2 separate regions of the Homo sapiens genome follow, and region 2 is linked to region 1. Evidence: fine-mapped expression QTL. A gene starts in region 1. The other region holds a variant in brackets. All regions are shown on one strand. Distances are between the middles of the regions.

Evidence for each region. PIP is the estimated chance that this variant, and not a neighbour inherited with it, causes the effect. A credible set is the group of variants that fine-mapping cannot tell apart.
Region 2: its variant is the best candidate, but not a certain one, in a credible set for the expression of MAP3K8 in whole blood (TOPMed, PIP 0.51).

What each region holds. Positions count from the first base shown.
Region 1 is chr10:30,431,053-30,436,426 of GRCh38, reverse strand. It overlaps MAP3K8 (mitogen-activated protein kinase kinase kinase 8), which reads right to left and starts at 2,243. Exons shown (of 9, transcript NM_005204.4): 1 at 2,049-2,243. RefSeq lists enhancers at 564-653, 206-741, 742-1,279, 1,404-1,453, 1,744-1,843 and 3 more and a silencer at 2,284-2,523.
Region 2 is chr10:30,515,740-30,521,113 of GRCh38, reverse strand. It overlaps the pseudogene HNRNPA1P32. Among named protein-coding and RNA genes, the nearest start is that of MAP3K8, 84 kb to the right of the region's middle. The variant A/G (reference allele first, on the strand shown) is at 2,786.

The DNA.
Region 1 (5,374 bases):
CTTTTCTCAGTGCCTGCAGTAATTCCTTAGCAACACAGGGCCCCTGTCACGCAAATCTACGTTCCCCAGAAACCCTGCTGACCAGTTCGCCTGCTAACTGCGCCTGCAAAAAGCCTCAGCACTTTCCAGCCTTAATTAAGCACACAATATGCTAATGGTTTCTGAGTTATTCATGATCTGTGCCCATCTAGAGAAAGTTCAGATTGTGAAGGTATTCTAGTTTGGCAATAAAGACGTTTAGTATAAGATGATTTTTCCCTTGACACAGTTTACAATAAAAGTCCTCATAAAATTCCTACTTCCTAACCAAACAGAAAATTATGCCAGCTTTTGGAATTGGAGAGATGTGCAAATACAGTCAAAATTAGTTACACTGAATTATTTCAGAAATCAGCAATAAAATCACGAGGAAATTCTCTTCCTAAACATTAACATAATACTCTTGGCTGCCTCCATATACAGAAACAAAATGTGAGTGTTTCCTGGCAAGTGTGAATGAAAATGGCCAGCATAACAGCATATGCTTCTGCCTAACAAAGAATGACTATTACTTGTGTTATTTCTCATTTAAAATATTTTTTTAGGCCGGGCACAGTGGCTCATGCCTGTAATCTCAGCACTTTGGGAGGCCAAGGAGGGTGCATCACCTGAGGTCAGGAGTTCAAGACCAGCCTGGCCAACATGGTGAAACCCTGTCTCTACAAAAATTAGCCGGGCGTGGCGGCGGGCGCCTGTAATCCCAGCTACTCGGGAGGCTGAGGCAAGAGAATCGCTTGAACCCGGGAGGTGGAGGTTGCAGTGAGCCGAGATCGCGCCATTGCGCTCCAGCCTGGGCGACAAGAGTGAAACCCCCTCTCAAAAAAAATTTAAAAATTATATATACATATATACATATGTGTGCCAAAATAGTACATTCTCCCTCAGGGCACATTTCTGACTATGTTTTTGCTCTCAAAAAGCCCCGGATTATGCGTTTCAGGCGTATGGAAGGAAGGACCGACACTCTGCTTCAAAACCTCTACATGCCTCAACGTTCCCATTTGCTTTACACGACAAAGTCCTCATGGGCCGTATGCCAGACGTCCTGCACACAAACCTCAATCCGTCGCAGAGAGCTGGGGGCGTCAGCTGGAAGTGGATTACACTCTCCTTGGCACAAACGACTCAGGCCACAGGTATGTAAAGCAACTGCAAGAGCCTTTCTGTCCCTGTTTTTTATCAAGAGCAGCCTTTAATCTTGTCTTCCCAAAAGTGAAATAGACAAGCATCGCAACGTTTCTCTCTTACAGGCAGCCGGTGGCCTTCCCCTGTTAACTATGGAGACAATCCCTAGGCGTCCTTCTCCGCCCAGAGCTAGAAAAATTTCAGAGTCCTGATCATGCACTATCGCTCGAAAACAACTTCCGTGAAAATAACTTTTTTTTTCTCCTAGTATTCTTTCTTAGACCAAAAGCCCAGCCTTCGTGTTCTGCTATGACCTCTTTAGTCATGGGATAGAGTCCGGGTTACAAACTTGAATTTAGTTCCAGCCATTCACAAGTCTCTGGGCTCCGCCAACCCACACTCCCACTCCTTTCCTCCTGGTTCTCTAAGTCAAGGGAGCCTAAAAGGCTTATAAATTATCAAAGCACCCAGCATTTGGGAGGATCGGGTCCTCCAGCCTCCGAGCTGCACTCACCGGGTCTCGGGCAGGGAGAGTGCGGCCGTCCAGGCGGCGTCGGCAGCGGGAGGCGCAGTGACAGCGGGTCCCCGCTTCCCCGCGCACTGCCCAGACCAGCACTGCCCTGGCGCTGCGGATACGGGAAGGAGGAGGAAGGGGGAGGAGTCGCGAGTCTGCACCCCGTGAGACCCTTGCGCAAGGTGCTTTCCAGCTGTGCCTGGTGCAGCCGGCGACCCGCGAGCGCAGCTGTGGGCACGCCCCCACCTCTTCCCACGCCAGAGTTTTCCCCTCTGCTGGGGGCACCCTCCATTTCTGCATGGGAATCCCCGGGGCACCCAGGCGGGACGCGACCCGAAAGACACGCCGGAGACCCCCAACCCTGGATTACCTGCGGCCTTGGCGCTCCCACGCCGGCCGAGCGCTCCAGCCGCGGCCCCCCGAAGGTTCGGTGCGATGCTGGCTGCAGGCCTGTGGGAGCCGAGCACGCCGGGCCACTGGGATCCGGCGGCGGCAGCGGCAGAAGCAGGAACCAGGGCGCCGGACCCCAGAGCGTGGCGCGCAGTCCAGAGCGGAGCGGACGAGTGAGACCCGCGTCGCCCGCACGCTCAGACCGCCCTGCTCTGCCCCTGACTCACGGCGTCTGAGCCTGCCCAGGGGCGGCGCAGCGGACGCCAGCCACCGCCTCCCCGACTTTTCCATTTCCCCTTTCTCTCCGTAAACAGAAAGAGACTGCCCGGTTGCAGGGTAAGCCAGAGCCCCCGCGCTGGGAAATTCCGCGTCTCCCCCCCACCCGCCACCCCGCCGCCCCTCATTTGCCCTCTGGGCGCCCGGGCGGAGCTGGAGGCGGGACTAGGGAGGAGCAGAGCGGCGCGCAGGGAGGAGCGCGGGACGTGAGCTGCGGCCCGAATCGAGAGCCTGGGACGGGGACGAGTTTTCCCCCGGGCCTGGTGACCCAAGGCGTCTTAGTGGCGGAGTTGCAAGAGGTGGTTGTGCCCTTCCCGGTCCCCAGGGAAGGTCGTATATCTTAGTGTACTCGCGCCCTCGGCGCTTCTCTGGAGTCCCAGGGTCCGGCGGGAGGGCACGCTCCCGGGGGGCGGCGGGGAGGGCAGTCACCAGACCTTTTTCCGCGCGCCCCACGCTCTGGGGTGGGGACAGAGGCGCCGTGTGCCCTCCCAGCAGTGCTGCGGGAAGCCGGGGAAGCTTCGGGGCTTCTTGGAACCGCGACTGTGGGTCCGATTGCTAGTAGCACGGCCCCGCCTCGCCCAGATTTCGCTTCAAATTCACACACAAAGAGGGCAGTGACCCGTGGTGCGCACGCACACATTCCAACTTAGAGATTTCCAAGAGGCTGCGGCAGGGTGGGCCCGGAACCTGGTTGTTGGGCGCTCGGCTGGGAGCCTGTGCACTCCGCCAGCAGAACCTGGTTTTCTTCTCTGCAGTCTTTATTAAAATTGGTTATTTTGCGGCACCGCCTCATTAGGAAGCGTACTTGTACTATCTCCCCGCTCCCGCCTACCGCTAACCCTCAGTCCTAGCTGCTCATCTGGGGTTTTCCTTCTAGAGTGTCAAGCTTTTACTCCAGGTGTAACCGGAAGAGAGTTCTAGAGAAAAGCGCCACTCTCCCGAAATCCACTCTGCGGGACATTCCCAATGCCCCGCCACCCCCTCCCCCTACATTTCCCACGTATCAAGCACCCACTAGGAACCAGGCATTCGGCTAGAGCGCGGAGAGCTAGGAGCCATGTAAGGTCGACATCCTCTCTCTCTCTCTCTCTCTCTCTCTCTCTCCCCCCCCACCTACGGCCCAGGAGGTGGGGTGTCCCAGGCACAACCCAGATTCAAACGCGGTCACACTCCAAGTCCACGCCCTATTCTTCCCAGTGCCCAGGTCCGTGCTCCCTCTGCAGTTTCTAGATTGCCTCCGCGCGGTTGCGCACGCCTGTAATCCCAGCGCTTTGGAGGCCGAGGCGGGAGGATCACTTGAGGTCAGGAGTTGGAGACCAGCCTGGGCAACATAGCTACCCCGTCTCTACAAAAAATCTAAAAATTAGCCAGGCATGGTGGCTCACGCGTGTCATCCTAGCTCCTCGGAAGCTGAGGTAGGGGGATCCCTTGAGCCCAGCAGTTCGAGTCTGCCGTGAGCTATGATTGCGCCATGGCACTCCAGCCTGGGCGACAGAGCGAGGCCTTGTCTCAAATTTAAAAAATAAAATAAAACAAAAAAATTTTTGAGACTGAGTTTCGTTCTTGTTGCCCAGGCTGGGGTGCAATGGAGCGATCTGGGCTCACCACAACCTCCGCCTCCCTGGTTCAAGCGATTCTCCTGCCTCAGCCTCCCGAGTAGCTGGGATTACAGGCATGCGCCACCACGCCCGGCTAATTTTGTATTTTTAGTAGAGATGGGGTTTCTCCATGTTGGTCAGGCTGGTCTCAAACTCCCGATATCAGGTGATTCGTCCGCCTCAGCCTCCCAAAGGGCTGGGATTACAGGCGTGAGCCACCGCGGCCAACCAAAAATAAAATTTAAAAAAAAAATTTGCCTTGTACCTTCTCTAGAGCCCTCCACATTTCTGCTATGGAAAATGAATTACAATACAACCCGAGGATGTATTGAGAGAATTGCTGGAGGAGATAGGTTAGTTGAGGTGACAAGCCAGGGGCTTTTTGCAGGACCTTAACTCGCAGACAACAAGCCCAGGTAGCAAATCCAACGTCGAGGGCCGATTGACTGAATGGGCACTGTCATCCGTCAAGTTATTTTAAATACGAGAGCGATTTAATTTATATTCATTCACCTCATGAAGCAGGGCTTTGCCATTCCCTCCAAATATCCAGGCAGTCCCTTGCACCTAGAGGAGAACCCCTTCCTGAACCCTCCGCCTTTCTGATCTTGGAGGGAGGGAAGGCAGCTTCCACCAACCCGGCAGCACTGACCCGGCAGAAGCAGCCTGGGCCGGGGTTGGGGAGGAGAAGCCCCGCTCGCTTGCGCGCCGGATGGGTGGAATTTGGCACTGGCTCAAGCGGGTTATCCCAGTCTCAGCTGAAGCCGAAGTTATCAGTACACTTTTGGCCTTTTCGCTGGAAACCAGGTTAGCACAGGTTGTTACCTCTGATTGTAACGTGAGAAACAGAGACGTCTCTTTCTCTACTGCCGTGTTTAGACAACAAAGGATGATCTTTACACGAGTTTTAAAAATAGAACCATGGAACCACTCCCCTCCCCACCCGCCTTGTGTGAGCTCATTAAAACCACACCTAATCTTCTGGGAACTGCATTATTAGCCTTACTTCCTACACAGAAGTCTCCCAAATATAGCTGCATTTTAGGGAGCTGGTGAAATGGCTGGTCTAGCAGGGTTCTCTCTTGCTTCTGGCTTAATCCAGAGCAGGTTCATCTGTTGGGGTAAATTAGAAGGTTTTACTTGAAAACGTATGTAGAGTTTTTAACAAGGAGGCCAAAAGGGAGAGAGCAACTGAAAAGAAAGAAAAAGTCTGTGGACTCCCTGTATGTATGTATGTATGTATGTATGTATGTATGTATGTATGTATGATGTATTTGAGACAGGTTCTGGATCTGTCGCCCTGGCTGGACTGCAGTGGGGCGATCTCAGCTCACTGCAACCTCCACCTCCCTGGCTCAAGTGATCCTCCCACCTCAGCCTCCCAGATAGCTGGAACTACAGGCGCATGCCACCACACCCGGCTAATTTTTGT
Region 2 (5,374 bases), 85 kb before region 1:
CTCCATCTCAAAAAAAAAAAATTAGCTGGATGTGGTGGTGCATGCCTGTAATCCCAGCTACTCAGGAGGCTGAGGCAGGAGAGTCTCTTGAACCTGGGAAGCAGAGGCTGCAGTGAGCCAAGATTGCACCACTGAACTCCAGCCTGGGCGACAGAGCAAGATTCTGTCTCAAAAAAACAAAACAAAACAAAAAAATCTGTAGATGGACACTTGGGTTGCTTACACCTTTCAGCTATTATAAATAATGTTGCTATGAATATGAGTGTATATCTATCTGTTCAAGTCCCTGCTTTCAATTCTTTGGGTTATATACCCCAAAATGAAATGGCTGGATCATATAGTAACTCTTTTTAATTTTTGGAGAAACTGCCATACTGTTCTCTACAGTAGCTGCACTGCTTTACATTCCCACCCACAGTGCAGAAGGTTCCAGTTTCTCCCCATCTTCACCCACGCTCATTGCTTTCTTGTTGTTTTTTGATAATGGCCATCCTAACGGGTGGGACATGGTACTTCATTGCCATTTTAATTTGCATTTCCCTAAGGATTAGTGACGTTGGGCATCTTTGAGCATCTTTTCATGTGCTTAGAGGCCATTTGTATATCTTCTTTGGAGAAACGTCTGTTTAAGTCCTTTGCCCACTTTTTAACCCAGTTGTTTTCCCCTATCTTAAATGGGAAGTTTTTCCCCTATTTTCTGAGAGTTTTACAGTTTTAGCTCCACATTTAGGTCTTTGATCTTTTTTTATTTTTATTTTTTGAGATGGAGTTTCCCTCTTGTTGCCCAGGCTGGAGTGCAGTGGCACAATCTCGGCTCACTGCAAACCTTCACCTCCTGGGTTTGAGCATGTCTCTTATTTCAGCCTCCCAAGTAGCTGGGATTACAGGTGCACACCATCACGCCTGGCTAATTTTTTGTAATTTTAGTAGCGACAGGGTCTCACCATGTTGGTCAGGCTGGTCTTGGACTCTTGACCTCAGGTGATCCACCCACCTCGGCCTCCCAAAGTGCTGGGATTACAGGCATGAGCCACTGAGCCCGGCTTTTGATCCATTTTTAGTTATTATTTATATGTGGTATAAGGAAAGGTGTAGTGTTATATACACATGCATATGTTTTTGTCCATGGTTCCTGGCTCAGAAACCCCATAGCCCTTGTTAGAGTCTTTCCTTTTAATGTCGGGTGTGTTAAAATGAGCCCCTGGGGCAGGCCTCAGGAAACAGAATCTCTCTGTCCTACTCTTGCCTTCCTTTCATCTGCCCGAAGGCAGGACTCTAATTTTCCCCCACCTTTCTTATTGTGGGTCTTAAGGCCCGCCCCAGAGAAAGTCCTACCCTATATCCTGGGGAAAGGAATGCTGATGTCATGAAGCTTCCATAAAAATCCAAGAGAACTGGGTTCAGGGAGTTTCCAGATAGCTGAACACATGGAAGTTCGTAATAAACTGGTAAACATAAGTAAGTGTTTCCCTGAGTTCTGTGAGCTACTCTAACAAGTTAATTGAACCCAAAGAAGGGGTTATAGGAACCCCAACTTGAAGCCAGTTTGGTCAAAAGTTCCTGAGGCCCAGACTTGTAACTGAGGGAAAGGAGGGGTCAGTCTTGTGGGACTGAGCCCTCAACTTGTGGGATCTGATGCAATCTCCAGGTAGATAGTGGTGGAATTGAATTGGAGGACACCAGCTGGTGTCCACTGATTGTTGATGGGGGAGAAAAAATCCACATATTTGGTCACAGAAGTCTTCTGTGTTGATTGTTGTGATGTGAGAGCAGAGGAAAAATATGGATTTGAGAGTTATTCCCAAAACCAAAGGGTCCAATTTTGTTCTTTTGCATGTGGATATTCAGTTGTCCCAACACCATTTGTTGAAAAAAAAGTCCTTTCCTTCATTGACTGATATCGCCATCCTTGTCTAAAATTATTTGAACCATATATGCAAGGGTTTAGTTCTGAGTTCTCTATTTTGTCCCATTGATCTATATGTCTGTCTTTATGTCAATACCACACTGTTTTGATTATGGTAGCTTTGTAGTAAGTTTGAAGTCAAGAAGTGTGAGATCTCCAACTTTGTCCTGTAGATGCCAGCTACTGGCAGGGTTAGTCCCTAACCACCTACTGCTTGCTAAATCAACTTTAGAGATGGTAGAGAGTTGCAGGCAACATGTTGGTTTGACAGAATGGGCTCCCTTGCCTTTCTGCTTGTAGATTCCACTGAAGAAGCATTGGTAAAGTCTCTCTTCCCACTGCCATCATGTCTAAGTCAGAGTCTCCTAAAGAGACCAGACAGCTGCAGAAGCTCTTCATTGGAGGGTTGGGCTTTGAAACAACTGACAAAAGCCTGAGGAGCCATTTTAAGCATGGGGAATGCTCAACGAACTGTGAGATGCAAACACCAAGCATTCCAGGGGCTTTGGGTTTATCACATATGCCACTGTGGAGGAGGTGGATGCCGCCATGTATGCAAGGCCACACAAGGTGTATGGAAGAGTTGTGGAGCCAAAGAGAACTGTCTCAACAGAAGATTCTCAAAGACCAGGTGCCCACTTAGCTGTGAAAAAGATATTTGTTGGTGGCATTAAAGAAGACACTGAAGAATATCACCTAAGAGATTATTTTGAACAGTGTGGAAAAATTGAAGTGATTGAAATCATGACTGAAACGAGGCAGCAGCAAGAAAAGGGGCTTTGTCTTTGTAACCTTTGATGACCATGACTCTGTGGATAAGATTGTCATCCAGAAATGCCATCCTGGCTGGGTGCAGTGGCTCATGCCTAAAATCCCAGC[A/G]CTTTGGGAGGCCGAGGCAGGTGGATCACTTGAGCCCAGGAGTTCAAGACCAGCCTGGCCAATATGGCAAAACCCCATCTCTACTAAAAATACAAAAAATTAGCTGGGCATTGTGGCACACACCTGTAATCCCAGCTACTCAGGACACTGAGGCCCAAGAATTGCTTGAACCTGGGAGGTGGAGGTTGTAGCGGGCTGAGATCATGCCACTGCACTCTAACTGGGGCAACAGAGTAAGACTCTGTCTCAAGAAAAAAAAGAAATACCACCCTATGAATGGTCACAACTTTGAAGTTAGGTAGGGAAGCTCTGCCAAAGCAAGAGATGGCTAGTGCTTCACCCAGCCAAAGAGGTCAAAGTGGTTCTGGAAACTTCGGTGGTGGTGGAGGGGGTGGTTTTGGTGGGTTGTGGAGGAAACTTCAGTCGTCATGGTGGCTTTGGTGGCAGCCGTGGTGATGGTGAATATGGGGGCAGTGGGGATGGCTATAATGGATTTGGTAATGAGGGAAGCAATTTTGGAGGTGGTGAAAGCTACAATGATTTTGGCAATTACAAGAATCAGTCTTCAAATTTTGGACCCATGAAGGGTGGAAACTTTGGAGGCAGAAGCTCTGGCCCCTGTGATGTTGGAGGCCAATACTTTGCCGAACCATGAAACCAAGGTGGCTGTGGCAGTTCCAGTAGCAGCAGTACCTATGGCAGTGGCAAAAGATTTTAATTATTGCCAGGAAAGAAAGCCTAGCAGGAGAGGCGAGCCAGAGAAGGGACAGGGAAGCTACAGGTTACAACACATTGTGAACTCAGCCAAGCACCATGGTGGCAGGGTCCAGCTGCTACAAAGAAGACATGGTTTTGACAAATATATGTATGGGCAAAAAACTCCAAGACTGTATTGATGACTAATTGCATAACAGATTATTTTCAATTTCTGTTCGTTGGAAAGCATAAAGCAGTCCAACAAAGGGCTTTAATGTAGATTTTGGTTTTTGCACCCATGCTGTTGATTGCTAAATGTAATAGTCTGATCATGACCCTAAATAAATGTGTCTTTAAAAAAAAAAAAAAAAAGAATGGGCTCTCTCTTACCAAGGCTGAAGCATTTGCCAGATCAATAGCTGCATCCTACAGACCAGCGTCTATGTTAATCTGCTCTAATGAAGATACTACCCCTGGCCTAGCAACTGCAGTTTGGGTTTACACTTGGGTACGTTTGCAGTAGGTCACTGTCATCTGTCATAATCCATTTATGTTATATAGAAGCTAGACAGGTAATGTGGGTGACTATGATGAGGACTGCTATTCTGACATCCTCTAAGTCTTTGAGGGTGGCATGGGTCACCATTCATCTCATGATTTCAAGGGCTTCTATTTGGCTTTTCCTACTATAATCGCCCTTACTGTAAAAATCAAGAAAAAAGTATAAGGGTTCTATGTGTTAGGTATGTTCATTTCTATCACACATTTGGGAATCCAGGAAATTTCCACTGGGTGAGCCCAGGCACTCAGTGCACCCATTGTGAGATGGACCAGACTTAGCAAGAGGGAACCCAACATGTAGCCTGCAACTCTCTGCCATCTCTGTGATCCCATGGTGCAAGCATTAGGGGGGATGAGGACAGGAATAGCTGGCATCTACTGGCCCAGTCATCCTGTCAACTTGGTTGTTCTCTTCTGTGGTGTGTGCTCTTTGGTGGGTATTAGCGAGTGATACAAAGGTTCTCAGCTGGACGCAGTGGCTCACGCCTGTAATCCCAACACCTTGGGAGGCTGAGGCAGGTGGATCTCCTGAGATCAGGAGTTTGAGACCAGCCTGGCTAACATGGTGAAACCCCATCTCTACTAAAAATACAAAAAAATTAGCCGGGTATGGTGGCTCACACCTGTAATCCCAGCTACTCTGGAGGATGAGGCAGGAAAATTGCTGAACCCAGGAGGCAGAGGTTGCAGTAAGCTGAGATTGCACTACTGCTCTCCAACCTGGGCGATAGAGCGAGACTCCGTCTCAAAAAACAAACAAACAAAACCAAAGATTCTCACACTTTTTGCTGCTTCCCATACATCCAGCCACATGTCTCCCCTCCAGACCTCTTATTTCCAATATTTCCAATGGCCAGGACTCCACTATCTCCATGTGCCCTACTCTGACACATGTCCAGGACAGCAAGTCTCAGCCTGACTCTGCCCTGTATCCAACAGTCCTTGAAAACATGGGCATACCACTTTCCTTAGTTATGGTTACCCAAGTAAATCCTTCGGGGAAAAGATTAGGGAAATAGCTACCCTATGCAATTGTCATGGTGCTGCAGAGCCCTTCTTTATGGTGACCTAGACCTTCCTTCAGCCAGTGAGTTTTTGGTTTAAGAGTTACGCCGGGCATGGTGGCACATGCCTATTATCCTACCTACCTGGGAGGCTGAGGCAGGAGGAATGCATGAGCTCAGGAGTTCAAGTCCAGCCTGGGCAACATAGTAAGACCCAGTCTCATTTATAAATATAAATAAATAAGACCCATTTCAAATCTGGAAATAGCAAAGGGGCTTTCCACTGTGGTGTCTAATCTCAACCTTCTGCTGACATGTTTTTATATCT